7 separate regions of the Homo sapiens genome follow, and regions 1, 2, 3, 4, 5 and 7 are each reported to be linked to region 6. Evidence: microRNA targets listed by miRTarBase, many of them from high-throughput screens and not tested one by one. Region 6 holds a microRNA gene; each other region holds the end of a gene's coding sequence. Distances are from middle to middle.

Region 1 (4,303 bases), not on the chromosome of region 6:
TAGCTGAGATTACAGGCATGCGCCACCACGCCCCGCTAATTTTGTATTTTAAGTAGAGACGGGGTTTCTCCATGTTGGTCAGGATGGTCTCAAACTCCCAACCTCAGGTGATCCGCCTGCCTCGGCCTCTGAAAGCGCTGGGATTACAAGGGTGAGCCACCACGCCTGGCCCAATTTCATTTATTTTCCAAGTCTGATACTATCAGTTGGTAGGCTAACAAATTCTTGCACTAATTTCTATGAAGCAAGCTGACTTAATCATCTATCTATACTAGCTCATCTGCCTGAGATGCTAAGAATAGTGAACATTTACTGGAACATACTATATATCAGACACCTCTAGGCTCTTTGTAATAATTTCCTGTTCATTCAACCTTCTCAAAATACCCATGGGGCAGATACTATTATCCATATTTCACAATTGAGAACACCAATGAGGCTCAAAGAAGCGAAGTTGCTCAAGGATAAAAAGATTGGCCGGTGGCTCACGCCTGTAATCCCAGCACTTTGGGAAGCCGAGGTGGGAGGATCACTTGAGGTCAGTTCAAGACTAGCCTGGCGAACGTGGTGAAACCCTGTCTCTACTAAAAACACAAAAAATTAGCCAGGCGTGGTGGCAGGTACCTGTAATCCCAGCTACTTGGGAGGCTGAGGCAGGAGAATCACTTGAACCCAGAAGGCAGAGGTTGCAGTGAGCCAAGATTGCGCCATTGCATCCTGGGCAACACAGCCAGACTCTATCTCAAAAAATAAATAAATAAATAAAAATAAGAATTTTTTATTCTTGCCTTATTTCGTAGCAAACATAAAACCATCCTGATTTTAAAAGCCAACACTGTTCTTTCTCCTTTTTCCTTGGATCACAAGTTCATACAGAGTCAAGCAAGTGCCCCAAAGAAAAACCCCAAAATTGAAAACAAGTGTATTCCCTTCAGAAAAATCAAAGCTAGAATGTTTAGCTATTGAAGTGTTTTCCCCCAGACTGAGATCAAGTGACTTCACTGCAGTGGCTCAAGAGTGGATGACTCCCTCCTTCCAAATAAAGCACTTATTGCTAATTAGCAGGCCAGAGGCTTAGACTGGATCTCTCATAATTGGAGACTTCAAAGTGTTCAGAACTTCAAGCCTGGCCTATGAAGTAAAAAAAAAAAAAAATTTTTTTAAGTAGAATTGCAATTTTATTTTTCTCCAGAGAAGTTTTTCTTCAGTCCTTAACAACTCCGCTCCTTATATGGGCTTTGGTGGAGGTCATGGGGCAGCACCTGCAGGTCTACGTTGGGGTGGAGGTGTTCGGTCCTTGCCTGCTTCATGAGCTCAATTCCTCACCACTGTGCTGTGAATGGCACAACTCACATGGTAATGTAGCTTCACATCCAGCCTGGGAAGTACACAGGCGTCAAGGATGCTCATTTCAGAAACATCGCTGACTGCTGCGGCCTCTACGTTTCAAATGATGAATTTCTTAGTAGCCTTGTCATTGGGCACACAACAACCACAGTTCATACAGCAAATGGGCTGCAGTGAACAGTGCACACCTGGTTGTGGACCTCTTTGGCACGACCATTGCTTCTTCTTTGTTATCTTGGAGGTGCAGGCCCAAGAAAGATGAAGTAAAAATCTTAATTTGAGGGTGACTAAATGAATCCTTCAAGACCACTTACCCCAAATCCACATTCTGCAAGACAGTTCAAGAAGAAAGGCAAAGTAGCCATCTATCTCAAGGGGCTATGGGCTCCACAATACTTAGCACTTGTCCCCAAGTGTAAACACTTCCCATGGCGTGCTTCTTCCGTCTCCCAGGTTAGGCACAACGATGCCAAGGTGCTGTCATCGACACTCCCATCCTTTAAGAATTTCAGGCCAGTTGTGGTGGCTCATGCCTGTAATCTCACCAGTTTGGGAGGCCAAGGCAGGGGGATCACTTGAGCCCAGGAGTTTAAGACCAGTCTGGACAGCATAGTAAAACCCCACCTCTATAAAAAATTTTAAAAATTAGCTGAGAGTTGTGGTGCACACCTGTGGCCCCAGTTATTTGGGAGGCTGAGGCAGCGGGGTCAAGACTTCAGTGAGCCATGACTGTACGACTGCACTCCTCCAGCCTGGACAAGAGTTAAGACCCTATCTCCATTTAAAAAAAAAAAAAAAAAGCATTTCAAACTAACAGCGGTTTAATTCTTCCTTTAGTATCTAGGTAAAACTGGTCTTTCTCTATAAAGTCTACTATCTTCTGGTCTAGTTTCAAAAAGTATAAACACCCTGAAATTAAAACATGAAATATTAAGAAAAAAGATGATGTGGAGGCCAAAAACCAGGAATGAGGTAGTCAACAGTGTGGTTATGTGACCCCTCATCTCACACTTCGCAGAGGCACGTTCAGGAAGCCACTGGCTGCCACTGCACAAGGCTGCTCCAAGATTCCATGTCACCTGGGCCTGTGAGTTATTTGAAACAGCAACCTAACCCCACGCCAAGCTGGGCTGTTTTCTCCAAAGGAATTCTCAACTGTCTTCAACAGAATTTCTGTGCAAGTCAGCCCCAGACAGTGGGAAGGTGGTGTTATGCCTGGGGATGTGGTTTCTCCGAGCAGCAGTGATGTTTGGAGATTAATACTGAAAGCTGCGCTTTGTCTGGATATCATCAAGAATCTGCTGCAGCTCCTCATCTTCAAACCGTCCCTCCAAGCTACAAGAAAATGAAAAGAAATGAGTGATTTGGCGACTGGCAATTTCCCCGCACTCTTCTTTGAGGCGTGCTAATCTACTGCCCACATCTCTAACACCTTTACCTTTCATCTGGATTTCTTTTCCACTTTTCCTGATAAAACATTACAAAATATTTCAAACATATAAAAGATAAAAGGTATAAAAAATATACCTTTACAGTTAGCCCCACTTGACTTAGAGGTTTTTTTTTTTCTTTTTTTTGAGATGGAGTTTCGCTCTTGCCTCTTAGGCTAGAGTGAAGTGGCATGATCTCGGCTCACCAAAACCTCCACCTCCAGGGTTCAAGTGATTCTCCTGTCTCAGCCTACCAAACGGAGTCTTGCTCTGTCGCCCAGGCTGGAGTGCAGTGGCGCAATCTCGGCTCACTGCAAGCTCCGCCTTCCGGATTCCCACCATTCTCCTGCCTCAGCCTCCCAAGTAGCTGGGACTGCAGGTGCCCGCCACCACGCCCAGCTAATTTTTTGTATTTTTAGTAGAGACAGGGTTTCACTGTGTTATCCAGGACGGTCTCGATCTCCTGACCTCGTGATCCGCCCGCCTCAGCCTCCCAAAGTGCTGGGATTACAGGCGTAAGCCACCACACCCAGCCCTCACCCAGCTAATTTTTATATTTTTAGTAGAGACGGGGTTTCACCACTGGCGAGGCTGGTCTCGAACTCCTGACCTCAGGTGATCCTCCTGTCTCAACCTCCCAAAGTGCTGGGATTACAGGCATGAGCCACCACGCCCGGCCCTGCATTTTTTCATTTACTGTCTTCATGTTTTCTAATGGTATCAACCTCCCAAAGTGCTGGGATGACAGGTGTGAGCCACCACACCTGGCCAGAGTTTTTTTTTGGGACAGAGTGTCGCTCTATTGCCAAACTGGAGTGCAGTGGCGCAATCTCGGCTCACTGCAACCATCACCTCTCGGGTTCCAGTGATTCCCCTACTTCAGCCTCCCGAGTAGCCGGGACTACAGTCGCACACCACCACACCCAGCTAATTTTGTATTTTAGTAGAGATGGAGTTCCACCATGTTGGCCAGGATGGTCTCAACCTCCTGACCTTGTGATCCACCTGCCTCGGCCTCCCAAAGTGCTGGGATTACAGGCTTAAACCACTGCGCCCAGCCCAGAGTTCTTTAATAAGCAGGAAAAGTGGATGGCTGTGTATACTCTCCTAGACCAGTACCTTCCCTCCTTCCCCAGAAATAACCACCATCCTCAATTTAGTATTTATCATTGCCATACATTTAAAAAAAATTTGTTTTGCCATACATATTTTTATACTCACTACACATTTATGGATACGTAAATAATATGCAGCATAGTTTCAAACTTTATAAGAAATGGCATCATACTGTATTTATCCTTCTGCAATTTTTTTCCTCAAAATTCATTCTGGCATATGTTGATATTCCATGTGGTTCTAGTTCATTGATTTTTTTTTTACTGCTGTATAATAAACATTGTATGATTATACAATGATTCATTTATCCATTTTCTTACTGGCCAAGAGATTATCAAATTTCTGCTATCATTAGCAGTGGAGCATGAGGCTGGGCACCGCGGCTCATGCCTGTAATCCCAGCACTTGTG
Region 2 (4,507 bases), not on the chromosome of region 6:
TGAGCACAAAATTCAAAATACATTAAAAAGTAGCATGGCTTACATTTTCAGCAGAGAAGAAACTGAGGAAATGTTCATAAAGAGACAATGATTTTTAAGATTTACTGTCACAAAAAAAAAAGGGTTTCACTTCAGGGGAGTGGAACTGGGATGGGAATTTTACAATGCTAGTTCCAGCACGTGGTCTAATGGCCCCAGGGGCTGGAAAAGGGAGGTCTGCTCCAACTTTAAGATGCGCCCTTGGGATGCCTTCCAAGCAGCTGGAGTTAGTGCCACCTGTCTCACCTGGCACCACAGGCAACACACATGTGCACACGCATGCTTTCAAAATGAGGATCAAAACTGTCCCACATAAGAAATTACTCAAGATGGAAAAACTAGTCTGGTGATTTTCTTAGAGAAAAAAAAAGAGAGACAAAAAGGAAGGGGTGGGGGGAGGGGAAGAAACCAAATAGATCCTGCTTCCCCCTGTCACACAACCATCATCAAAAGACATATGAACAATAATAAAATAGTAATAGAAGTTCTTACTCTGGCAGAAATAGCTAGTGTTGTCAGAGGGCGCAGGGAGCTGTGAGTTTTGCTTTCAGGAAAAGTGTTCAAACAGTGCTGACTGTGTACCTCAAGGCCCTCTGACCTCAAATTAAATTGGCTGTCAAAGACTTACGGCCCATGGAGCTCCCAGGTGACAGTGTCAATGGCGCTTTATGTAAGTTCTTTCCAGATTGATGAACCAAGAAAAAGGTCAACTGAATCCTTATGCTTAAGGTTTACAAACTCAGGAGAGTTTCTTGTATAGTAACTCTAGTTTCTTGTTTGCTTATTTCTTTGTCTTCCCCACCACAACTAAGATGACCTCCGAGAAGTACCCAGGCGCCCCTGGGGTTCTCTGCTGGGCTTACAGTCTGATTGTGCAGGTAAAGATCGTGTCCTCTCACCGGACTGCATCCTCCTGCCTTTGCGTCTCCAGTGTCTGAGAAGCACGGTGTGTGCATTCCTAGGTGTTCAGGGACCGTCCAGTGAATGGCGTCAGCCAGCTGCCCACTGATGGGATGGGCCAACGACGTGGCAGTTTGCACTTGAGTGTCGGTACTTCTCACCCTTGACCGCCTCCGCCCCAGTGCGGCTGAGACAACAGAGTAAAAAGGTTTGTGGAGAACACTGACGAGTACCTTCCACTTCCAACTATGGCTTCTTCAGCCCCTCCTGGGAGCATTCTCCCTTGAAGATGTCAATCAGTATCTTAAGCGTTGGCTTTAAAAGTCAACTTGTGCACCTCAATCAAAATTGAGAATTAAGGAAAAGGCCAGGGAGACCATCTTCATTCTGCTTCTGCTGGAAACCTCTAAAACTTTCTGACGAGGCTCCCACACGCCCTGCCTGCAGGAGCCAGCATCCCGAATCTCCGAGCAAAGCCAGGTACAGGGTTTGCAAAGTCTAAACAGGACTATCTTAAGACTTCCCAGCGTTACAGAGCCAGGTTCAGCATCTGCAAAGTCTAAATGGGACTATCTTAAGACTTGCCAGTGTTACAGACTGATTTCCAAGAAAACGGAGGCTTAAAAACTTCCAGCACAAATTTCTCCTCCACCTTTGAAAACACAGAAACTCACTCAATGAATACGTCAGATTTGCTCAATCTTTCTGAAATTTTTGGACAAAGATCCTATCCTTAACTATTCACTCAATACATCTTTTCTGCCGACCTTTTCCCTCTGGCAGAAATGGCTGAATCAGATAGAGAAAAGTACTGCAAAACTGCAGAATCATAAGACAAAATAGATGTGGTGTCAACAGCCAATTAACCAGTACCTGCAACGTAAAGTCATTCTAGAACATTTTAAAAGGACAACACAAAATACAAAAGCTTATCAAGAGTGCTCCAAAGGCAAGGGACTATCTGATCCTCGTGTCTCCAGCTCTCCAAGAGCAGGAGTTAGTAGGCATCAGAAACCAGGCTGTGATGTACATCTCTGAAGCACACAGAAGTAGCGCCAGGCAGAGGGTTTGAAGGATATGTATTCATCAAGAAGTAAACGCAAATCCAAGATCTCAACCACACTTGGCTCTTAAAGATCCACCAACTTAACCCTTATGGCATGCATATGTGGCTTCTGCAAGAAGCAACTTGAAAACCCAAGAATGCCTTGCTCTACCACGTCCCGCGACTGCAAACTCCCTTCCTCTGAAACAAGCAGCCACAGCTTTATAAGAAACATGCCGGCATGTAGTCCATCCTGGGAGGGGAGAAATCTTCACCACTGGCTGCCTTTCAGCAAGTTCCCCTTGAAATCTGCCGGCAGTGGAACAGATCCCAGATCCCAACGCTGTAGCTTGGGCGTCCTCCCACCAGGGGTTCCTTGTTCTGAAAGCTGCCACCAGTGTTGTTCCGAAAGATGCCTCTGCCTTTGTGGGGTCATCTTCCATTATGCCTCCTAACAGGAAACAGGCTTCTATGGAAGAGAAGAGTCCCAGCCCCCTGACCTTTCCGCTTTGGTCTTGGAGGATCTGAGTCACATCTGCCATGTTGCCTAAAGAATTAGTTGAGTCTCTTATCACACTGTCGACACATTTAGGGGCCATTCAGTGGCACGTTTCCTGCTAAAACAACTCTGCTGAAAATGTCTGAGGTCCTTCTCAAACAGCCACTGGCTTTGTGATTGTTACCAGGTCCCAATAAAGCGGGATCACACCTCTGAAATTCTTTTACGAGGTGGCAGGTGAAGTTAACTCACACACTATGGATGCTGAATCAGATCAAGGATAACAGATTGGACTTAGGACACTCTCTCTCCCTCTCCTCTCATTTACTGGTTACGATCCCAGGAATCCAGTGTAACCTGGATAAGCAGGGCTGGCTGGAGACGATACTGAGCATTTCCGAATGGAGATTATTGTGTGGATAACTTTTTACCAAATGTCACTGTCTTTTCCTCCCAAACCGACACCAAGAGCTTTCTATTTTTCTGACACCTCTTTGTAAGAGCAAGAAAGACATAAAGAGTACATACACATTAGGACTCTTTAAAAACACACACACACACACACACACACACACACACACACACAAGCCTTCTACAACCTTCAGCTACACAGAAACTTTTATCATGTGACAACAAAATTCAAGTCATAAGGAAGCTCGCACAGTGACCCATATAAATCTCCCAGCTGAGCCACCAGCTTTAACATATTCATATTCACCTAAACATGAAGAACGAGGGGTTCAGACAGGCCCAGATGGGTCTCTTTCAGGACCCTCCCTCCCGTTGATGCAGCGTTAGGACTCCGTTTAGGCGCAGAGCCACTTCCCATTAAAACTGCATGTGTTAGCAATTACTGCAAAATCCACAGGTGGCGGTTAATATAAATGGAACTTGAGCTCTGTCCATCAGGGAAGCGCCAAGACCAGGGCCCCCTCCAGCGAACGCACGGCCTATGATGTGAGCTTTGAGTAGCTGGGGGGAGAGAACCGTCTTCGCAGGTACTTGAGGACATAGAGGGGGAGGCAGCTGACCAGAGTGATGACGGAGACTTTCCACAAGAATGACAAGGTGGCGATGAAGTACACATCTGCAAGGAAAGGGGAAGACGGCAGTGAGCAGGCAGGAATATTCCGGAAGGTGCATGGGGTCCAGAAACAGGCGTCACAACTATCAAAGGGAAAGTCATCTCCCGTCACAAACCCACAGCCTCCTGGCATTGGCCCTCTTTCTCCATGGACTGTAAGGGAAGGTACCATGGCTAAGAGCACACAGCGCCGCAGCTTGATTTTCCTCGCTCTCTCTTCTGTAGCTTCCTGACAGTGAAATGCTACTTTTAACACCCAGGAGAAGAAAACTATGGGGGCCACCAGATGCAGTGGCTCATGCCTTAATCCCAGCACTCTGGGAGGCCAAGGCGGGCAGAAGAATTGAACCCAGGAGTTTGAGACCAGCTTGGGCAACACAGCAAAACCCTGTCTCTACAAAAAATACAAAAACTAGCCAGGCATGGTGGTACATGCCTATAGTCCCAGCTGTTCAGGAGGCTGAGGTGGGAGGATCATCTGAGCCCGGGGAGCTTGAGACTGCAGTGAGCCAACATTGCACCACCGCACTCCACCCTGGGCAACAGAATAAGACACTGTCTCAAAAAAAAGAGAAAAAAAGAAGGAAAGAAAATTACAGGGGAAGAAAACTCAGAGATGCTTTTGATTTGGTGTTGTCTAACAGTTGGAGAGTCTTTCTAAGTCCCGGCCACTGGCGAGCAGAAAATGACATTCAAATGCACCCTCTGCTTCCAGTGATGGTCGCAGAAAGCCACAGGATGAGTCTGGGTCATGGTGCAAAGTGTTCAGACCCCCTTGTCAGAGAAAGGCTTAAGCTGACCCTCAGGGACTCTGATGGAAGGTGGGGGGGGCGGGCGTACTGCCTTTCCTGCTGCAGGATTATAAACCCGGTTATGAGGTTTTCTTAAGAGAGGAGTGACAGTTTGTGGCTTTCAATATAGCAGAAGCCAGAATAAGCCC
Region 3 (4,507 bases), not on the chromosome of region 6:
AACAAATGCTGGTGAGGTTGTGAAGCAACAAGAACTCTCATTCATTGCTGGTGGAAATACAAAATGGCACAGCCACTGTGAAATACAGTTTGGCTTTTTTTTTTTTTAACTAAACTAAAACATAAGCTTACCATATTATCCAGCAATCAGGCTCCTAGGTACTTATGAATTGAAATGTTATGTTCACATAAAAACCTGCACACAGATGTTTTTAACAGCTTTATTCACAATTACCAAAAATTGGAAGCAAGGACAATCAAGATGTCCTTCAGTAGTGAATGCGTAAACAAACTATGGCACATCCGCACAATGGAATATAATTCAGCAATAAAAGGAAACGAGTTATCAAGCCAAAAAGAAAAAAAGAGATGGAGGTACGTTAAATACATATTTCTAAGTGAAAGGAGACCGTCTGAAAGGCTACGTACTGTGTGATTCCAACCATACAACATTCTGGAAAAGGCTGAACTACAGAGACATTAAAGAAAGATCAGTGGTTGCCAGAGACTTGGGGAAAGGGGGATAGATTGGTGAAGTGCGGGGGTATTTTAGGGCAGTGAAACTATTTTGTATGATACTGTAATGGTGGATACCCTGCATTATGCATTTGTCAAAACCAATGGAACTATGCAACAGAAAAAGTAAACCCTAATGTAAATTATGGACTTCAGTTGGTAATTTTATCTCAATATTGGTTCAATTTTTCTGTAAATCTAAAACTGCTTGAAATGTTTTTAAAAATCTTAACATGACTAGTTTTGTTCCTAAAAAAAAAAAAAAAAAATAGTAACATTTAAAATTTCTAGTACCTCCACAGCAAACTCGTGTTCAGACATGGAGAGGAAGGTTTAGGGTCATATGCACAACTAAATGTGATCATTTGTCAAACACTGATTTGATTGTTCCAAGTCAGAGTCAGTTAACTTTCTTAGATCTTTCTTCTTCTTCCTTGGTGAAGTTCACATGCCCAAGTCAAGAAACATTTTAGGTAAAGGGCAAACTACTTGAAAACTTCCATTAACAGCCAAACGTGTGATGACTAAATGAAAAGCAATAAAAAGCAGGGCCCTTCACCACCACTGTTGCCATCCCAGAAATGTCTAAGCAAGCATTTAAATGCTTTTCTCTTTCCTTCCAGGCCTTGCAATTGCCAGTGCCCTAATAGATATTTCACAACAGAAAGCTTCAGATAGTAAAGATAAGACTTCTGGAGTCCGGAATCGAAAACACCTTTCAACACGTCAAGGAACTTGTGTCTGAGAAATGGAAACCGCTCCTGTATATTCTGTACTGTTTTACTTCGGGCTTCTGTTAAAGCTGTTCTATGGCCTTGGATTTTATGGAGGCAGATCTCTGTATCATCCAGAGCCTGAGTACAGTTTCCTTCCAAATGGACAATGACCCAGGTGGCCAAAGAATGTTCATGAGTTTTATAAAAGTATTGATGGTCACAGGTGATAAAGTCAGTTTTTACCACTATCTTAGGCTTATTATAGCTAACATTAAATTACTCTGGAAAAAGATGTATATTGTTTCTTAATGAAGATGAAAAATATGTAATTCATATAAATCAACTGTTTATATCCCAAGACTTGAAAGAAAGACATTTTTTAATGCCTGAATGATGAGAATTGTACAGTTTTTGCCTCATAAGCAAACTTGAATCACCTGTGTATGAACAGGGAATGAACACATTGCAATGGCTTTAAATGCTCTTTTATCTCGTTGTAAAGGTAAGGCAAGATTTTGATGTAGTAGGATGTAGGTAATGTATTTAAATATTTCATATGACCATATCGTGTCCAAACTCAGTCTGAGAATGTGACAGCTTTCCGCCTAACTAGAATGCAGACCAGAATGAGTTCAACTCATTCTGTGCAACTTCACAGGGGGTTTATTAGAATGCTCAGTGTAGAGGACATTCCTGTCATCCATGCCAACTACCTAACTCGTTATCAGAGCTGATAGAGCATGGAAAAGTCTGTCCAGCGATCAGTTGTTCCCCTCCTTCCAAAAACAGCCTCCAATACCACAACCTGAAAAGAGCCGAAATGGTTATTTTACAGCATACAAGCTTCTGCTCCAGTATGATAATTTTTAATTGCCTAAGAATCATTGGATCAGACCTAAATGATCCATCTGCATTTTTATAAGAATGGATCTTTCTTTGCCCTTCCTCTCCTAGCTGCTAGATTTTAACTACCTTTTACAAATGTTACAAAATGTATTTTAGAGGCGACATCTCTCAAGATGACCTGAGTTCCTTCCTGCCAACTGTTCCACCTAGAATACAAGTAGAGAAGAGCACTGGCTGGCAAGCATCAACAGGAGTCTTCTTCCCAACACGAGCGCATCCATGTCCTGAGAAAAAGTCTGTGGTTTAGAAAATATGTCCATGGTTGCCCACAGTCAGCACACTCTTAGTGACTCAAAATTCTGAATTATGGCAGAAAGGAAAAATAAAACATACTTCACATTAGAACACAGAATCATTTACATCCTAATACTGACCACAGTTCACTAAAGCTCAGTAGCATTAACAGATATAGTTTGGAATTGCAGTTTCCTCACTTCAGGGTGACAAGATATGTATAACAGTGACAGAAATCTCCAAAGCTGCTGTATATGATATAGCTTTGTTAAATATGAAGGTCCTTTAAATACAATTGATGTTTAGTACTATATATGTACTTTTCACATTCTTTGGATTTCTGGAAGGTTATGACACTTTACTGTTTACAGCTAATGCATAGTTACTTGCATGCCATGGTTGTACAGTAGCAGACTATGACCCTATTGTGATATTAAGTGTTTATTTCATAATGCCATTTATACATAGCTGAATTTGATGAGGATTGAATGTCATATATAAGAGGAATGATCATACAATATGTAGTTGCATCTTATATAAGATTTCTAGGTTGCATCTAACCATGACTATGTCATTATTTTGATAATTAGGCATTTATGAATTATAGTATATATTCCTCATGTTGGCATGATAATTTTGCTATTTTCCATGCATTAAAAATAAGACAAATTCTTAGAGTAATTTTAGTAATTTTATCTATAATCTGTGGGGTTTTTTTGGAGGGGGAGGCCACTGGTTGTTTCTACTTCCCTGTGATATTTTCTCTCTCATTAAAGGAATGAGCTAAGTTTGTAAATATCTCCTAAAAACAATCAAGTAATTTTATTAGCTTCTTTTGGACCCTCTAAATATTGACTTCTCTCATGAAAAAATAAATTGATGAAACTAATGATTACAAAGATATAATCATTTTTTAAAAAGTGATTGCCCAATGTATTTCTCTAACAATTGTCACAAGAGAAAGCATAACAATAAAAATACAAAAACATACAGATTTAGATGTAAAATCTATATAAGCTATATTTTTAGGGAGGCTAAGCAGATAGTATTACTGTGGAAGAATTATCAAGTTTTATTCACCTCAAATCCCACTGGGTTCTTAAAACTTGAAAATTCAAATTGTAGAGAATTATGAGACACAATGTGATGTTTAGTTAAAGTCATGCTATACCTTTCTGGGCCACATATTGCTAACTCTGTGGCTAATTATGCAATTAATTCTCAACGTATCAAAGCTTTTCACTGGCAGTAAATTCTTTGCCCTCAGGTGAAGTGGATTGAAAAGACATCAAGGATCAAGGATAATCACTTTGAATCTGTTGGTTTTTCCCCCTACATTCCAGACACTTTAAATTTGGATGCTTTCATTTTTTTTAAATCAAACCACACAAATATGCAGATACTTTCCCAGAATTTCGCAGTTAAATGGCTGATCCTCTTGAAAACTAACCTTAATGGAATTCTAAACATTTCAGTTTAGAATGACTTTGAAAAATTCCTTAGATTTTTAGGATGTTTTATTCTGCCAAGTATGAAAAAAAAATGGTTAAATACAATGGAGTTTTAAAAATTAACCTGGGGATTCTATTTGAACTAGAAAATTCCTATTGGAAAAGAATTTGCACATACTTACAGATTCAGCTAATAAATTTTAAGAGGATTAGGATTCTCATAATTCTTTAAATGAAAATTTGTTTTAGTGATACACAGAGATGCCGTATACTATAGTGTTATGTTCAGTAGGAAAACTTCAAATAGTTCGTATTTAAAAAGGTAATTGATCCTTGCTGTACTTCCCAACATCTCATCTTCTTTTAGCTGCAGTAAGATAGAGGTGACTGTATGGCTACAGTTCATGGTATAAGGTCATTTAGGGTGCACACTGGCACACAGGCTGGAAAACGGGCACTGGACCCAGCTTTCAGGTGTGTGGTGCTGGGTAAGTTTCACCTTTGAAGCCTCAGCCTTCCATCTGTAAAGGGCGGTAATGGTGCCCACCTTTCGAGGCATTGCGAGGCTAGATGGTAACACACAGAAAGCTCCCACAGTGGGACCTTGATGCAGCGTAGCTGGTATTAACAACCGTGGGGACACCAGGCCACTCTTTTTCTACCAGTTGTTTTATGAATCCACCTA
Region 4 (4,507 bases), not on the chromosome of region 6:
TTGAGTGATTTGTAGCATACATGTAAGAATTTGTTGCCTGGGCATGGGGCTCACGCTTATAATTCCAGCACTTTGGGAGGCTGGAGCAGGAAGATCACTTGAGTCCAGGTGTTTGAGACCAGCCTGGGCAACGTAGTGAAATCCCATCTCTACAAAAAATTTAAAAATTAGCTGGGTACAGTGGCATGTCTTAGCTACTTGGAAGGCTGAGGCAGGAGGGTCGCTTGAGCCCCAGAGGTTGTCATGATACTTGAATAAACAAAAATTAAAATTTTAAATAAAATAGGAACAATCAGGCAAAGAAAGGCAGAAGACAAGAGTATTGCAAGGAAAGAGAAGATAAAAGCAAAGAACTTAAAAAGTGGCAAAACACCTAATGCTCAGAGTACCGATCCCTAATCTGTGTTATGTCCTCCTGGAGAAAATTATGTTAAAACCATTTGAGGACTTTTTGCTTATCACACATCATTACTTTGATCCTGATCTCCATGATTCTGATACCTGTCAGAGGAAATCCTCTGAGTTAAATTAATTCTCTTACGGTCCTATGACCCATAGATAAAGCAGAAATTCCATATGGTTCCATGTTTATCTCAGGTTGACCTTGTTTCTGATTGAGCCAAGTTCCTTCATGGGATCTCCCAACTAGAGGTTTAAGAGTTTTTGTCTCTTTAATCTTTACATTTTATGATGTATTTTTAAGTGTTGAGTAGTGCTTAACTGACCAAAGACTAACTCCACTTAATTGAGCCAAACAAAATTTTTGCTGACAATTTGTTACTCCTTCATGTGACATATAAGAGGCCTGTGATTAAGGTGAATAATGTTAAGAATTTTATTTCTAATTTGCTGTTAGCTGGGTATCTTTGTGTAACAGTTTTTGGATCTAACATAGTTGTTTTGATTCCACAGTGTCTCATGCGGGAGCCTCCATGTCATCTGCTTCATCAGACACTGGAATGAGTCCCTCATCATCATCTCCCCCACAAAATGTACTTGCTGTAGAATGCAGGTGATAAACATTTTCTCTACCTTCCCAGCAGTTTGCTGCCATGGACATAAATCCCCAAACCCTGAATTACAACCACAGAAAGCACTCAACTGGTTTGACATTGCTAAGTATATCCTGTATACTTTTCCAGGCTGGATTGTATCTATTCCCCTCTCTCTTCTTTTTTCTTGTTGCAAAAAATAAGCTGATTAATAAGTGAAGGTTAAGCAGCCTGCCATATTTGTCATAATTTTTCCTCTTTACTTTTGTTTTTCGTTTGTTGTGATATAGAACAAAGGGCACTTAGCAAATTTGAATTTGTATAATAAAGCTTTCAGGTGTTACAGAAATCGTAGACAAGCAAGTGCACATGATAAACATCAAAATATTACCCAGCTGAATAGTTACTGCTGCACTTTCACTAAGATGTATTTGAACACTTGGTGAGTAGGGGGTTTATGTTGTGTTTTTTTTCATTATCGTTTTTTTTATTTTTGTGGAAGCACTTGCTATTTAGAACTGCCAAAGTATATGTTCAGCAGTGTGCCCAGGATTGAAGGTGTAAATGGGACAAAATAAATTGTGAAAGGAAGTGTAGTTGACTGAAAACTACAGTTGTAATAAGTCTTCCACTTTTTATAGGATTTTTGAGCACAAAATTATGCAAATATTTTAATGTTTATTAATGTTTACAGTGGAATTGTGAATAAGTTTTCAGTGGACTATCTTATCCCTTGACAAAAATATTTTGTCTTTTTTCTATGTAATTTCAGAGTTTTTATTTTGTTACAAAAAGACAAAAATGAAATATATAACAACAATGAAGTTATTTAACAAGATTTCTAAAGCTGAAATTTTTGTGTAAAATAAGGTATTATCTTGCAACTTGTTAAATATATTTATTCAGACATTGGATGTTGTATTTTTATGTATTTTTTAAAATATTAATAAAATTTAAAAAAAGAAAATTCTAGGTTAATTCACTCTTTGGATGACAATAGCTCTCAGCTGTCCTTTTTACAGGAGGTTGCATCCTGCAGCCTTGCCTGTGTTAAAGGGAGTCTGTCTCAGTCCATCAAACAGTATAGAACTATAAATGGGCATCTGGATCATTAAAGTATGTCCTTGTTTAGAAACTTTGGCAGTCCTAGTATTTAAACTGTTTTGAGGATCAAATTTTTGGTTGCCCTTAAGATACTTTGTCACAGTTTTTATGTTTGCTATACTGCCGAATGAATTTATATCTCCCAAAGTTGAGATGCAACAACTAAGTAAAGCAACTATGTATGCTTTGTCTGTGAATTGTTCCACAGACTGATAGATTTTGTAAATAATTCTTCCAAAATCATGTATTTAAAGCAGTTTTGCATATACATTATGTAAAAAGGTGATTTTATAAAAGCAGTTTTTAAATTCATGTTTGTACATTGAAAGGGGTTTTTTTTTTAAACCTCCTTTTCTGTGTTTAATATGCTGTAGAATAATAACCTAGATGCTCTAGACTGTATATCAGGATCTGATTTACAAGAAAAAGTCAGAGCTAAACACTAGTGATGGCATAGCATTACTGAAATCATTGTTTCTTAATTTCATTTTACTACATTGTGAACTTGTGATTCAGATTCCATTTTCTCAGAGAATTAAAAACAAAAAAAGTACTCTTGTAAAATGCACTTTTCTGTCTTTTCTTTGCAAAGCAGAAGTATCTCAATGTAAAATAAAAATGGAGCTCAGTGGGCAGTATTAATAAAGGCCATGTTTTAAACATAGGCTTTATACTTTTAGTTTTCATTTAAGTGATTGCTTTTTTCCTAAGTGCTTGTAACTTACAGTTGGAAAATCAGATTTCACAAAACCAAGCATTTTAGTATATTCAGCCTTTACAATAAAATATTTCTACTAATTATAAAAATGAAAAAAAAAGTGTCATTTAAATCCATTTGGACCTAGGAGGCAACCTTAGATTTATACATTAAATATTTTAATGATTTCCTTCTGTAGCAATTCAATAAATGTGAGATAAATAAGTTATCAGCTTGAGTACTGTCCCTTCTAATTGATACAAATTTGGTCATGAAGTATTGGGATGTTGCTACAAAGAGCAAAACTGTGTATTCATTGAATAGATACACACTGTTAAAATCCTTTCATTTGGAGGCTGGAAAGGATTATGAAATTAAGTGAATATTGACTAAGTATGACATTTCAAATATTGAGCATATTTTGAGTTTAGGTAAACTTTGAATAGATACCTCTTAAATGTAACTAAGAAAGTAAAAATATAGGCTGGGTGCGGTGGCTCATACCTGTAATCCCAGCATCTTGGGAGGCAGAGGCAGGCGGATCACAAGGTTAAGAGATTGAGACCATCCTGACCAATATGGTGAAACCCCATCTCTGCTAAAAATACAAAAATTAGCTGGGCGTGGTGGCACGTGCTTATAGTCCCAGCTACTCAGGAGGCTGAGGCAGGAGAATCACTTGAACCCGGGAGACAGAGGTTGCAGTGAGCCCAGATCACACCACTGCACTTCAACCTGATGACAGAGCAAGACTCTGTCTAAAAAAAAAAAAAAAAAAAAAAAAAGTAAAAATATAAAGACACTCTAATATAATGCAAGTTGCCATCTGTAAAATCAAGTTATTTAAAAGATTATGGTGCTTTCTGTTTTAGTATTGCATTGTGTGCTTTTATGTATTTCAATTTTTGAAACAGGGTCTTGCTCTGTCACCTAGGCTGGAGTGTAGTGGTGTGAACACAGCTCACTTCAGCCTTGACCTCGTGGGCTCAAGCCATCCTCCCACCTCAGCCTCTTGAGTAGCTGGGACTACAGGCATGTGCCACCACACCTGGCTAATTTTTAAATTTTTTGTAGAGACAGGGTCTTGCTGTGTTGCCCAGGCTGGTCTTGAACTCCTGGGCTCAAGCGATCCTTCTGCCTCGGCCTCCCAAAGTGCAAGGATTATAGGTGTGAGTCATTGTGCCCAGCTGGACATTGTGTGCTTTTATTGTTTGTTATTTTGTGTTAAATTTCTAGTTTTCCTCTCTTTCACTAAGAAAGATGGTTGCACTTAGCATATTAAAAGACTACTACATACTATGCCTTCTATGAAATTGCTTTAAGTTATGAAAATCTATGTGGATTGCCCAGTTAATTTGCTTACATACCTTTCTTATAAGCCCTGTAATTTTTTTTTTTTTTTTTTTTTTTTTTTTTTTTTTTTTTTTTTTGACGGAGTCTTGCTCTGTTGCCCAGGCTGGAATGTAGTGGCGCGATCTCCACTCATTGCAAGCTCCGCCTCCCGGGTTCATGCCATTTTCCTGCTTCAGCCTCCTGAGTAGCTGGGACTACAGGCACCCACCACCACGCCCGGCTAATTTTTTGTATTTTTAGTAGAGACGGGGTTTCACCGTGTTAGCCAGGATGTTCTCAATCTCCTGACCTTGTGATCCGCCCGCCTCAGCCTCCCAAAGTGCTGGGATTACAGGCGTGAGCCACCGCGCCCAGCCTTAAG
Region 5 (4,507 bases), 98 Mb from region 6:
GTAAATCTGACTGTAAAGAAGAACTGAGATTTCTCAAATAAGTAGATGGTAGGTCACTAATTGCAGAGTAAGTAAGGTTTCTTACGACCTTGGCAGGGAAGAAGAGCAGGGAAGGCTGAGGAAATCGCTGGAACGGCAACTATTGACCATGGCAGCTCAAGCACACACATAAACACATTCAAGTTGGAGTGTAGCAACTATTTGTTCCACATTTCACTAAGATGTCTATCATGTCAAATGTTCCCTTGGCATAAATAGCAGAAGTTTCTATGAAGGGCTTTCTTTTATGTCATTTTACTGAAAAATCAAAGTAGGCAGGTCTGCAATTAGTATCCTCATTTCACATGTTAGGATGCTGAAGCAAAGGAGGTGAATGATTCAAAGTATTCTGTGCTCATATCTTTAGCTCTTTGACTCCTCATAACTAGAGAGTGCCAGGAAAAATGCTCTTATTTCATTTTCCTTGAGAATATACTTACTTGTCAGAAATGAAAACTCAACCTGTATTATCAGTACCCATCATTTTGTAAGAAATCAATGTTTCGTAAAACACTTAAGGTCTCATGTATGTCCAAATTATTATCATTAATCAAGTGACATGAAAGGAATTATTCTGTTTTATAGACTCACCATATAAGGATATTAAAGAAGGCTAGCTTGAATTAGGCAATATGTTTGATCATGTTCTATGCAGTCCTTTTTATTAAATTTGATTTGGCTTGTGTGGTAATATTGTGGTCTTTGATAGGAATGCAGGTAAACGAAGTTAATAATATATAAAAATGAATCATGTTGAAAACTAGGGAGGAAGGAAGTAGTTACCGAATTCCTGTAGGGACCATAGTTTAGTTCATTAAAAAAATTTGATTTTCGGCCAGGCATGGTGGCTCATGCCTGTAATCCCAGCACTTTGGGAGGCCGAGGTGGGTGGATCATGAGGTCAAGAGATCGAGACCATCCGGGCTAACACGGTGAAACCCCGTCTCTACTAAAAATACACACACAAAAAATTAGCTGGGCATGGTGGCAGGCGCCTGTAGTCCCAGCTACTCAGGAGGCTGAGGCAGGAGAATGGCATGAACCTGGGAGGCGGAGCTTGCAGTGAGCCGAGATCGCACCAATGCACTCCAGCCTGGATGACAGAGTAAGACTCTGTCTCAAACCACCGCCCTCCCCCCCAAAAAAAACCCCAAAAAACAATTCTGTCACAGTTCAAGCTTCTGTATTTGGGGTACTTGCCACAGAGGAACACTGGTATTAAATATAATTGAAGTAGACCAGATTTTCACTGTTTTATAGATAAGGAAGATCAGGGATATTGAGAAAACTGCCTAGCCCAGGTCCTCTGGAGAATCATTAGTGGCCCAAATGATAACCCATATTCTTGCCCAGACCACTAACATATACTTTCCAATAGGGTGATAGTACTTCTATAGTTTATAAGTTATACAAAGTATGAAATAAAAATATTTCATAAACTGTAACCCCTTTTTAAGTCACTAAAATTGTATACATCTATGTTAAAAACCACACAAATCTCGGTTCATTTGGGGCACTTTTATTTACAGCCAAGGAAAAAAGAAAACTAGCATCTATTTAGAATGGGAAAGCATGTTTGTATGAAAACAAATATTTCATCATCACTTATTTTCTATACTGTTTGCAACTAAGTTTTACATTTTTCATTTTCAACAGAGATTTGAATTTTAATGTCCCAGAAATATAAAGAAGATGGCATTAAAATGTCCTATATGTTGGCAGTCCTACCCTGAAGACTTTTTTTGCTTATCTTTTGTTCTGAGCTACAGTCTTCGCAGAGACTAAATTAGTGACTGGACAACAGAAGAAAATAGACCATCCTGGCTAAAATGGTGAAACCCCATCTCTACTAAAAACACAAAAAATTAGCTGGGCATGTTAGCGGGTGCCTGTAGTCCCAGCTACTCGGGAGGCTGAGGCAAGAAAATGGCGTGAACCTGGGAGGCGGAGCTTGCAGTGAGCTGAGATCGCGCCACTGCACTCCAGCATGGGGGATAGAGCGAGACTCCGTCTCAAAAAAAAAAAAAAAAAAAAAAAAAAGAAAATAGAAACGGGAAATATTCATGTCAGCTGTTAAAAACCAGTTTTGTAAAGCAAGGCCTAAAAGTCCTATCTCTGGCATGTTTAGTATGGAACGTATAGTTGATTGTCATTCAGCTACTAGAGAAAGGTATTCTACAATGGCAGATAGCCTTATCAAAACAATTAGCCGGCTTTCTCCACAGGGAATAGCAGTGGGGTAAGTAAGACTGAAGTGAGAGCTCTTATCAGTTTTCTCAGAAATGATTTCTCCATCATAGGTATTTGGCCAACTGGTTAGGTCTAGCATGAACATGTGATTTCTAAAACAATGAGCTGAGATCTGCTAACATGTTGTAAAGGAGCATCTAGTAGAAGCTGATCTCTAAGCAAAATCACCAATTTATTTAAGTTTCAAAAATTTTTTTTCCATAAATATGTTCTTTAACATGCACATTCTGCTTACATTGTTTAGGGTGCTTTTTATTGTGCCTAAAAATTTGCAATATGGTGAAATAAAATATTTAAAAATGGTTGAATACCATACGGAAGATGAAATCTCATATTTATAGCATGTAATTCAATTCTCATGTATGCATAATTAATCAAAATTGTGTCTTTAAATGACATCTTGACATTTTTTGAATTGCACTAAGAAACACTAGTGTCTACCATTCATTTTAACAGACTTATTTATGTTTAGCTTTATTAACAGTATAACATTTTCATGCAATCTTAAATTTTGTTTTAATTTTTACAATGTTTGATTTAATTCAAATTAACAAATATTCAAGCCTACATGAGAGACAAATGAAATGAGACTACCTTTATATATAATCAGCAAAATTCTTTTTAAGAGTAAAAAGTTAATATTGGGATTTAAAAACCTAAATTTCCAATGTTACTGCTGACAATCCAATCCAACTATATGTATATTACTTAGGCCACAGGACTGCCCATTAGTCTTTCTTGTCGGAGAGCAATTAATCTCTTGAACCATTTTTCCTCAGCATCAGCTTTCTCGATAAATAACTGAAATAAGAAAAGAAAAAGAAAAAATGTTACTGTCTCCCAATAACTTGAATTTGACCTAAAATGACAGAACTCACCTTTGTAGAATATATCTCTCAACACAAGATTTGGATACTGTTTAACTCTTGATGACCTCTTAATTGATGACTATCTATTTGGAATTAGTAATGCTCAGAAATTCTTGGAGTAAAAGAACTACTAGTATCAACATCATTGCTTAACAATTTTGTACCTTATATTTGTGAAGTTTATTTCCTATAACTTTTCCAAAACAGCAGAATTACAACATTTCATGGAAGACAGCAAAGTATGATGTTAGTGATGTGCTCACTGATAATGAACAAAGTAGAGCTCAGAAATGGAACTTTTAGTGCTAGATTTTTAAACAAACACTTCTCATGGTGCTGATCAATTCAGCTAAAAAAAAAAAAAAGGAAAAAATGCTTCTCTTTGTCTATTTTTCTTAACCATAGACAGAATACTTCTACAGGTTAGGCAACATGAGTTGGACCCTACTGTATTCAAATATAGATAACAGTTCTAAAGGCCTGGGGGCCAGATGCCTATTTTTAGCAAGGGAATATGAACCTGTTTCCTCCAATGGTCTCCTTGGTGTTAGCACAAAAGGATAACAGATTGAAATAATTTCAGTAAATTAGACTTCAACTGACATTCGTAAAGTTTAAGGATATTACATTTGGATGGGCCAGGGAATTGTCATCTTGGTACTTGATAGCAGTAGGGATGCTGGTAGGATCTATTTCTTTTTCAGTACTGGGTGGATCAGCAACTGCTGATGCTGGTCCTGATGTTGAAGTTGCTTGTTTCACTTCACTAGGTTCCACTGACTGAAAGAAACAACACATATTAATTTCAACACAATACACAATTAGAGTTTTACTTCAAAAATATTTCTGATTTTGAATAACAACTGTTCAATTAGTCTCCTTTGAGATGATACCCATCTCCAAAAAGGCCCTACTTTTTGTATTTGTTTGTTTTAGAAATACAGTTATTTTATTTTTATATTTGTTTGTTTAGGAATAACTATATTTAGGAATATAGTTATAGATATATAGAAATAGAATATAGGAATAACTATATTGTATTTGTTTTAGGAATAACAAATAGAAAAATGCTGAGAAAATGTCAATCATTTCTTATGATAAGCACATTTTTCTTAAGAAATTGGTACTTACGTGCCTATACTATTGAAATATACATATATTTCATATATCTAAATTCTATTAATCAAAACAAGCTTACAACAAATATCCAACATTTAGTTGGCCAATTTAGGTATGAAAAGTAAATTCAAAGGTTATCTTTAGAAAAATAGCCTTATTGAGTTATAGAATTCATATACCATACAATTTACCCTTTTAAAGTACATAATTCAATGGCTTTTCACATATCC
Region 6 (4,507 bases):
ACCAATCATATAATATCAGACACCAATAATTTGTCATTCACTCTAGTGTTCTACAATCATTAGAGGAGCTATTCAACTGCTCTCAGACATACCAGCTATGATCATGTAGGAAACGTGATTCCGTGGGCTGAATGTACCAACTCTTCACTAACATCTCAATACTCTAGACTGAAGTTAATGACCAGTGCAAACCACCAGAGTATTACAGTAAAAGAACAGCAGTAAAAAGGCCTTAATAAATCAGAAATTTAAATTGGCTATTCATTTTAGTTACAGCCATTCGTCAGAGCAAAGTGATGGTCCAATTCACCTATGCGGTAACTTACATTGATCATAACAGTACTTTAAGTAATATCATCCATTAATTTATTAAGCAAATATTTGAGTAATACCTACTATGTGTACAACCCTCTGCCAGATGCTGCAAGATATATTCAGACATAAAAGAAACAATCTTAACCTTTAAGAAACTTGTAATCCAGTAGGAGAAAAAGACATTTTGTAGAAGTCTTATTCAAATAAAATATGATTCCATAAGATAAGGCTCCATCTAAGCTCTCTGCATTGCAAAGCTGATGGCAAGAACTACATTTCCCAGAATACTCTTCCCTGGATGGTTCGAGTGAAGTTTACCAATAAGAATAGAGTGAGATGTGGAAGAAAAAGAGATAAAGAAACTGTTCTTTGGAAGTCAGACAAATGTGCACAAATGAAGTCTTCCTCATTGCTGTACATTGAGAGATGTCCCTGCTTTCCTTATCGAAACTCTGATCTGTCTATGAGTTATTAACACCCTTGTCAGTAATATCACTTGTCATTAGGTCACAATTCTTGGGACTACCATTGTCTAGGTTCTTCTATTCCACATGCTTTGTTTCTGTGCATGTTGAGTCCAACATGTGTGTATATTTTAGGTAGTGTCACCTGTTTGGATATCCACAAGACCTATTTACACAACACCTGTTACAAAAACTCACCCCAGATGTTTTCTTGTTTGTTCAGTTTAATTTATTATACAAATCTTCACATTTGAAAATATAAGCAAAAGTGATTCTAAGCCACTACAGGAAATTCACAAAAGCAACACCTGGTGTCAACATATTTCATCACATTTTAATGATTATGATGTGCACAGGTGTGCTGAAAGTTTCTCCTCCATACTCTTTGATTCTTTTTTAAAATTTTTTTAATTATACAAGTAATACACTTCTAGAACTAATAAGCAATCATAGCAAGCTTGTGGGACAAAAGTTAATATACAAAGTCAATTGTCTTCTTATTGCTAGCAATGAACAATTGGGACTTGAAATTAAAAACACAATACCATTTACATTAATGCCAAAAATTTAAATACTTAGGTATAAATCAAACGTGAAAGATCTATATAAGGAAAACTATAAAACTTTGCTGAAAGAAATACAAAAGATCTAAGAAAAAGGAAAGCTATCCACATACGCAGACAGGAAATCTCAATATTGTCAAGATATCAGTTCTTCTCAACTTGACCTATACATTCAATGCAACCTCAGTTTTAAAAATCCCAAGCCAAAGTAAAAGCCATCTACGGCACACAGCATTCCGAAAGGTTTGGGCTACCTGACTATTATGGCACCAAGAAATCTCTGGTATATGAGAACTTTCACTTTAATTCAAAATGTTGGATGACCTGATTTTCAGCAGAAATGCTCTTCAAATCAGTTTCACTTAGGCTTTTTGGTGTGAAGTGAAACGATGCAGACAATGAGCTTTGGAGAATGAGGAACCACTGAATAACTTACTATGGAAGTGGATACTGACATGGCAAAGAAACGACAGCCTGGAGTTTTTAACAGAATGTTCCCAATGAGCAGGACCTGAAGATGTTTCTTCGTTCCAAAGGAGCTAGCAAAGAAGTGATTGTTAGCATCATATCAAAATAACTAAAAGCTATAACACACACTCTTGAACGTCTTTCAAAACAATGGGATCTATGAAGGATTATGATATCAGATCTTGATACTGTAAATATTTTGGGCCATTCTCCTGAATGCTTTCTTTTGTCCCATGAAAACCTAAACTTAGGGATTCTATGAGTTCCTCTACTCAGCTGGATTTACCTGTAAATGCCTTTGTTGATTGTTGACCAATGTCCCTTGTACCTTTTCCAATAGTCTCGATCTGAATAAACAGATGGTTAAAGTTTTGCAGGAAGTATATTTTTCATTGGGTCACAATGATCCCACAGATTTTGTAAGAAAGATGATTTTTTAAAACCCTTTCATCTTAATTCAGGGTACCAAGCAGGTAAAAACTAACATTGAATTTTTACAGGCAAGTTTCAATTTGAACAGTAGGGAATTGCTATTTTAATATGTGGTCCAGGAACCAAAATCCTAGACCTTTCCAATGACTATGCCAAAACAAACTACACAAATATCAAACAGAAGCTGTTTTCTCTCTGAGGTACTGAAGAAGAGGTACAAAAGCTTGCCTTAAGTTATCCAGATGTGGGGAAAAAAAGTTATCCAGATGTGATCTTTTGGCAGAGAAAAAGTTTAGTGAGAAGAATATTTTAGCTTGGTGCAAAAGTAACTATGGTTTTTGGGCAAAAACCATAGTTACTTTTGCACCAATCTAATGGATTGTCTCATAGAATAATAAATTAGCCTTCTGTGAAAGTAATTTGTGATAACTGAAAAATCCTTGGGTTCTGGATTCAAGCATAAGTACTTTATAAAGTCAAATCAAAGAATTAGTAAATGCTGGCTGTAACTTGAGGACATCAAGCATCACTCTTCTACTCTGGAGTTAAAAAAAAAAGATACAAAGTAAATTTAAAAAGTTAAGCAGAACACTGGGGAATTTTTGAAAGCCAGTCATATAATGTAGTGGTATCTTTTCATTTTGAATTTGGGCCTTTCAAAAAGGAGGGGTATGATTTCTTAACCACAGATATATATATGTAATAATTCTTTGGCTATTTTGTTTTACAGGTTTATGGAAACTCATGGTTGATATGCTCAGGTGCAGTCCTCCTAGCTACCTATTTTCCAGTTTGAATTACTCCAACATACCATTATTTGATACAGGCTGTGCTGCTGTAGAGATGGTAGTGCCATGGTGATTTGCTACACAGATCATCCCATCACCTAGGTATTAAGCCCAGCATCCATTAGTTACTCTTCCTTATGCTCTCCCTCCCAGCAGCACCCCTCCAACAGGCCCCAGTGTGTGTTGTTCCCTCCATGTGTTGACGTGTGCTCATTATTCAGCTCCCTGTTGTAAGTGAGAACATGTGGTGCTTGGTTTTCCGTTCCTGCGTTAATTTGCTGAGGGCAAAACCTGATTACTTTGAAAACAAGTTCTACTGTGGCAGGCAGAATCATGGCCACACCTAAAGATGTCAACGTTTTAATTTGAAGAAGCTGCGAATATGTTATGCAAAAAGATTTTGCAAATGTGATTAAGTTGAAATTTGATTAAGTTAAGGGCCTTGAGATGACCTTGAATCATCTGAGTGGACCTAATATAATGCTAAGGGTCCTTAAAAGTGGAAGAAGGAGGCAAAAGAGGTCAGAATGATGCTGTATAAGACAGACTTGACCACTTTGAAGGAGGTGAAAAGGAGGCTTTGAAGAAGGAAGGGACCATAAGCCAAAGAATGCAGGGGGCCACAAAGAAAACTGAAAAGCCAATGAAACAGAATCTCCCCTAAAGGCCCCAAAAAGGAATGCAGTACGGCTGGTACCTTTTCAGCCCAGTGGGCCCAGTATCATACTTCTGTCCTACAGAACCACAGGATGATAAATTTGTGTTGTTTGAAGCCACTGAGTCTGATAATTTGTTACAGCAGCAAAGATTAACATAGCAACTAAGTAGATGATTTGTTGCATTATAGGTGGTCACAAAATACAATCCTTTAGTATCATGTATTTTTTCCTCTTACAAGAGTAATTACATTTAAAAAAGCTATCTACTGTTCTAGAATCACTGTCGTTGTTTACAATAAAGTCCTTTAAATGTGCGCATAAAAAACTAAATGTGAATAAAATGTAAATAAAGGAATATTTTTGCCTAATAAATACAAAGAAAATGAAAATCCCAGCAACCTATTTTTTGTGGATATTAACAAACTGATTCTAAAGTGTACATGGAAAAGCAAAAGATTCAGAATATGCAAGACAATATTAAATGAGAAGAACAAAGTAGGAGCACTGACACTATCCGACTTCAAGAGTTAGAACAAAGCTATAGTAATTGAAACAGTGTGGTATTGGCAAAAGCCACCAAATACATCAGTGAAACAGAAGAGAAAGCCCACATAGTCTTTTCCACAAATGGATCTAGAACAAATGGATACCCACATGCAAAAAAAAAAAAAAAAAAAAAAAAAAAGAATCTAGACAAAGACCTCACACTATTCACAAAAATTGACTCAAAATGAATCACAGACCTAAATGTAAAATGTAAAACCATAGAACTCCTAGAAAATAATGTACAAGAAAGTTCAGCTGATCTTGAGCATGAA
Region 7 (4,507 bases), not on the chromosome of region 6:
GTAAAAGTCTTAAGTAACTAGCAGATATTCGGAACAATTGAGTAGACAAAATTGAATTGGGGAAGAATTTTCTAAAGTTCTGGGTCTTAAGGGCTATACCCTTATTCATGGTGCTTTAATAATGGTTTTATTTTTGCATTTATTGAGTAAGATTTTATGTTTTCTATTCCCAGTTTTTGAAATTGACAAGCATAACATTTATGAGTTTATGCTTGTTTAACAAATCCTGTTGTTTTATTCTCAGTTTAAAAAATAAGGGTGTAAATACATCTCAAAAGTGTACAGATTTCTCACTGAGTTTGTTTTAACCTTTGGGAAACCACAATAGACCCTGAAGATATCCATAATTTTTACCCAGTAAATTTTTTCTTTATTTAGATGATTTGCAGTTTTAGTATTTACTGTTGTAATTAGATGGTAATCTTAAAAATGCATTGCTAACTTCAAACCATATTTAAATTATCAGTAGCTATGTATATATAATCACATGGAGGTTGTAGCCTTGCCTTGTATGATTAAACAGAGAAGAAAGGTGGTATTTGTTAACATTTCTGTTTTTTACATGTATCATTCTTTTATCACATCTCATAGGTGATAGCATCCTATTTTTTTCTTTATTTTCTTGGGATTCAGCCCAAGTCTGTCTCCAAAGTCCATCTTCTTTCCTACTGCTCTACTACACTGCAGAGAAATAGGACGGTGAAACTGAATATATATGTATGTACTGTCATAAAACTGGTTATAATGCGTTCTTTTTCTCCCCCCAATCTACCTTTTCTTTTTCCCCAGAATCCAGATTATCTTCAGTATTCTATCAGTACAGCTCTCTGCAGCTTAAACTCGGTGGTACATAAAGAAGATGATGAACCCAAAATGATGGACACTGTATAATTTGGTTAAGACTGCTGAGGCCAAGTGCTATTTTGTTACAAGAAAGGAAGAACTTGGCTATTTTCTTGACACTTTTATGGGTGCTGCACTTTATTTTTGTTCGGTTTTTGATGGGAGGGAAAGAGTACTGAAATGTTTTGTAAATTTTTTTTAATGTGCTGCTAGGTTTTTTGTTTTGTTTTGTTCTGAAGAGAAGAGTGGTACCATATGTTGCAGGAAGTCAAACTGGACTTTTTGTGGCTACTAAATTTGCTTTTAATCTTATTGTTCTCAATTTTGGAATCAAGTATGAAAATCTGCACAAATGCAATGTTTACAAGAACTGGTTGATTCTGGGAGGCATCTGCTACAGTCTCTTTTTATATGGATATGTACATGTCCTATTCTACAAAAATGATTAAAGATAAAAACATACTTGTATCCCACTGCTACTTTAGCTGTCAAATTTGGTGTTTCATCACATTAAAAGCAATAAATCAGTAGTTGGTAATGTACTTTACTAAATAAGTTGGGGGGTACAATTTTTAAAAGTCTTAACTCTTAAATACTTGACTTTCGGCACCATCAGTTAAATCCTTGACTATAATACAAATTTGATATATACATTACATTTACCCTCAAATTATTCTCAAAACTATATTCCTTAGAATTTGATTTTACCCTGCTGACTTTAAGAGTTATAATAATATCAAATGTGATGAGCTAATATAGATTTTCTTTTTAAATAAGAATAACTTCAAGCTCACTCTTTCTTAACATAGTCTGGGATCTCTCAGGGAGTAAGTTTTAAAAGAATACTAATGGCTTGTAAGAACAAACAGGAATAATAATCTGATTTTTAAATTTGTAGTTATTTTACTCATGTTGCCTTTTAATTTTTGTTATTTTGGTTTATTTTTTGATGTAGCCTTTTAAAAAAGGAGTCTTAAAAATGATTTTTTTTTTAAAGGCAAGAGAAATCTTGTAGTGCTAACTGCCTTGAGCTGCCAATTACCTATTTCTGAGAATTTGGTGACTCTTATTGGTAATGATGGCATTTACAACATTTGGCATTTCCCCTTTTTCAGCTCAGTTACCATAGAATACTTCCAAGCTTTACTACTTCCTCTGTAAGTCATTTCAGTTATGCCAGGATATTTGATGATTTTGTTTATGTAGAATTAGGTAACAAAGCCAATTATGCTATCCTTATTATTGAAGGATTAATCTTATGACTTAACATAAGCTTTGGTTATATTTGGGTGTAGTCTTTGGCTAAGTACCCATTAAGGCTAGTAGCAAACACTTGGAAGGTGGCTAACTGGGACTGGGAATACGTGTCTCAACTTGAGAAACCAAATAGTGCGAAGGGACTCAGGGTGGCCAGACCTGTGACCTTGGCCTCATTTGTATCTTGTTTTCGCTGAGGTGATCAGACACTTAGTACCCTAGAAATGGACTGGAATTATTGAATCTTCTTCTGTAACATCACAATCTTCCTGGTTTTCAGAATAAACGTTTTTGTGCTTTTGATATAAATATATACTCTATAATAAAATGTTTGACTAATTTATATAGTAGTGTTTGTCAGCCTGTACTTTTTTTTTTTTTAAACCCATGACCTAGTCGTAGACATTTTTTTCTTTTTGTTCTGTTCTGAAGCAAGCTCTTATTTTTCCCTTTCTACCAAATTGAGAGAATGGGCAGACACAGGAGCCATATTCCTAGTTTCACAGAAATGTTACTTGAATTATTATTTTCCCTTCTTTCCCAGGATTTGCCTGTAAGCATTCAAATTGTTTTGAATTTCATTTTGCCTTCTCTAAGTTAGAGGTATTTAATGACTGAAGACTGGCAGGAGAGAAAGTATCAACAAACTGAGTAAACTATTCTTGAGGGGCACTGAAAAGATGTTCTTTGAAACTTGATTTATATATTTTTACTTGCAAAAGAATATACTGTGTTTTGAGTATGAAAGTGTGATTGGGTCTGTTGTGGGAACCACTGACTGATGCCATAATTTGCACTTAAAGGCTATAAATTACATAGTTAGCCGTACTTTAGTACTAGAAACAGTAAATTGACATCCTTGAACTAATTCCTACCTTTTTTTTGTTTCTGAAGAAATAAAGAGTATATTAAGCAAAGGGATAATTTATATTTCAGGTTGGACAATTTACCCTAAACAAATTAAACCATGGAAAGTGCAAACACATGAATGAAACATTTTTTTACATCAAAGTATCATCAAAGATTCTTGTTTCATTTGATAAAATTAATATTTGAATAAAAAAATTTTTAAATCAAATAGCTGTCCATTTATTCTCTGTTAACTCAGTGTCATTTTTTCAGTGGTAGTGAAGATAATACTGCCTTAAAATTATTACTCTTAGGTAGATGGGTAACATTCTCTTCCAATTATACCATTAGTGAGCTCTTTCAAATTTTGCCTAATGAGCTCACAATCTCTTATAACTTCTCTTTAGGAAAATCAGGTCCTCCTCTTCTTTCAGACTGGCATATCATATTATTACCCTTTTAAAAATGAATGAACAGCCGGGCGCAGTAGCTTACGCCTGTAATCCCGGCACTTTGGGAGGCCGAGGCGGGTGGATCCTGAGGTCAGGAGATCGAGACCATCCTGGCCAACATGGTGAAACCCTGTCTCTACCCAAAATACAAAAATTAGCTGGGCATGGTGGCGCGTGGCTGTAGTCCCAGTTACTCAGGAGGCTGAGGCAGGAGAATCGCTTGAACCCCGGGAGGCAGAGGTTGCAGTGAGCCAAGATGGCGCCACTGCACTCCAGCCTGGCAACATCTAAAAATGAAAATGAACATGCTGCCCAAAGAACATGAATCTGTTTTAGTAAGTGGATTTTCTAACAGGATGAAAAAAGTTGACTGTAGGTTTAGGCAAGGTGATCCTGAAGTTAACCTTTGGGTATTTTCAGAGGAGAACGAAATGTCAGTTTACTTTTCTAAGTCAATCATGTATTTCAGTTCTTAAATTGGTGTGGGACAGAACCGAGGTACTTGTCTGGGTTGAGGTTGGGCTTTCCATTTCATGGGCTTTCCATTTCAATTTTGCCATTATAGCAAACATACTTTTAACAAAACCCTTAAATCCATCCATCTCTCATCTGTAATGGACATGTATATACAATTGCATAGTTCTGAGAAGTTGATTTATCTGAAAATTATTTGCTCACTATGTGAGCCAAGGGGGTCGGGAGGGGGACACAGGGTGAATATAAGTTCATTATGGATTGTTCACCATCTAATATGAAGTGAAACCATTCTCATAAGCTTTGAAGAATTAGACTTGTTTGATCTCTAAATATAGAAAATGATTATTAAAATTCCCACATCTTTCACACAGTTAACAGCATGATTCTTCATGTTATTTACACATCAGACATTTAACTTGGAATGCTTTAGAAAAAGATGACACAGTGCTGGACTGATTTACACTTAGGCATGACAGTTTATTCAGTGCTATATATGGAAAAATCAGTGTTTATATTATTTAGTGAGCTAAAAACAAATAAAAAGCAGGAGGGGGATAAGGGCTCTACAAAGCATACTGGCTTTTACCAGAAGCTTTAAGCACAGCTACACTATTTTAACTGTTTAAAAA

Evidence for each region. The annotated mature microRNA hsa-miR-548bb-3p reads CAAAAACCAUAGUUACUUUUGC and lies in region 6 at 2,562-2,583, opposite strand. An mRNA with a match to its seed (bases 2 to 7 or 8) in the 3' UTR can be bound and repressed. Matches are read on the target gene's strand: a 7mer-m8 pairs with bases 2 to 8, a 7mer-A1 pairs with bases 2 to 7 and ends in A, and an 8mer does both.
Region 1: miRTarBase lists POLR2D as a target of hsa-miR-548bb-3p. Seed matches in the 3' UTR shown: 7mer-m8 at 2,304-2,310, 7mer-m8 at 898-904 and 7mer-A1 at 586-592.
Region 2: the mRNA of ATP9A is a reported target of hsa-miR-548bb-3p. Seed matches in the 3' UTR shown: 7mer-A1 at 3,026-3,032 and 7mer-A1 at 1,561-1,567.
Region 3: the mRNA of ATRNL1 is a reported target of hsa-miR-548bb-3p. Seed matches in the 3' UTR shown: 7mer-A1 at 1,467-1,473, 7mer-m8 at 3,081-3,087 and 7mer-m8 at 3,693-3,699.
Region 4: the mRNA of ARID4A is a reported target of hsa-miR-548bb-3p. Seed matches in the 3' UTR shown: 7mer-A1 at 1,766-1,772, 7mer-A1 at 2,199-2,205, 7mer-A1 at 2,396-2,402 and 7mer-m8 at 2,427-2,433.
Region 5: the mRNA of RSRC1 is a reported target of hsa-miR-548bb-3p. Seed matches in the 3' UTR shown: 8mer at 2,939-2,946, 8mer at 2,114-2,121 and 7mer-A1 at 1,890-1,896.
Region 7: the mRNA of CDC37L1 is a reported target of hsa-miR-548bb-3p. Seed matches in the 3' UTR shown: 7mer-m8 at 994-1,000 and 7mer-m8 at 1,056-1,062.

What each region holds. Positions count from the first base shown.
Region 1 is chr2:127,845,504-127,849,806 of GRCh38, forward strand. POLR2D (RNA polymerase II subunit D) reads right to left here. Exons shown (of 4, transcript NM_004805.4): 4 at 1-2,682. The coding sequence ends at 2,604. It also overlaps the pseudogene RPS26P19. Among named protein-coding and RNA genes, the nearest start is that of POLR2D, 10 kb to the right of the region's middle.
Region 2 is chr20:51,597,778-51,602,284 of GRCh38, forward strand. It overlaps ATP9A (ATPase phospholipid transporting 9A (putative)), which reads right to left. Exons shown (of 28, transcript NM_006045.3): 28 at 1-3,570. The coding sequence ends at 3,434. Among named protein-coding and RNA genes, the nearest start is that of NFATC2, 57 kb to the left of the region's middle.
Region 3 is chr10:115,943,520-115,948,026 of GRCh38, forward strand. ATRNL1 (attractin like 1) reads left to right here. Exons shown (of 29, transcript NM_207303.4): 29 at 1,139-4,507. The coding sequence ends at 1,260. Among named protein-coding and RNA genes, the nearest start is that of SNORD158, 250 kb to the right of the region's middle.
Region 4 is chr14:58,370,974-58,375,480 of GRCh38, forward strand. ARID4A (AT-rich interaction domain 4A) reads left to right here. Exons shown (of 24, transcript NM_002892.4): 24 at 913-2,903. The coding sequence ends at 1,016. The region is part of intron 1 of TOMM20L-DT (TOMM20L divergent transcript); the gene reads right to left. Among named protein-coding and RNA genes, the nearest start is that of TOMM20L-DT, 22 kb to the right of the region's middle.
Region 5 is chr3:158,542,766-158,547,272 of GRCh38, reverse strand. It overlaps RSRC1 (arginine and serine rich coiled-coil 1), which reads right to left. Exons shown (of 10, transcript NM_001271838.2): 9 at 3,786-3,938; 10 at 1,543-3,090. The coding sequence ends at 2,998. It overlaps MLF1-DT (MLF1 divergent transcript), which reads left to right. Exons shown (of 5, transcript NR_104147.1): 5 at 1,696-2,053. Among named protein-coding and RNA genes, the nearest start is that of UC.134, 18 kb to the right of the region's middle.
Region 6 is chr3:60,615,254-60,619,760 of GRCh38, forward strand. MIR548BB (microRNA 548bb) reads right to left here and starts at 2,617; the gene lies at 2,552-2,617. The region is part of intron 4 of FHIT (fragile histidine triad diadenosine triphosphatase); the gene reads right to left. It also overlaps the pseudogene MTERF1P1.
Region 7 is chr9:4,705,222-4,709,728 of GRCh38, forward strand. It overlaps CDC37L1 (cell division cycle 37 like 1, HSP90 cochaperone), which reads left to right. Exons shown (of 7, transcript NM_017913.4): 7 at 790-3,178. The coding sequence ends at 891. AK3 (adenylate kinase 3) reads right to left here. Exons shown (of 5, transcript NM_016282.4): 5 at 4,335-4,507. Among named protein-coding and RNA genes, the nearest start is that of CDC37L1, 28 kb to the left of the region's middle.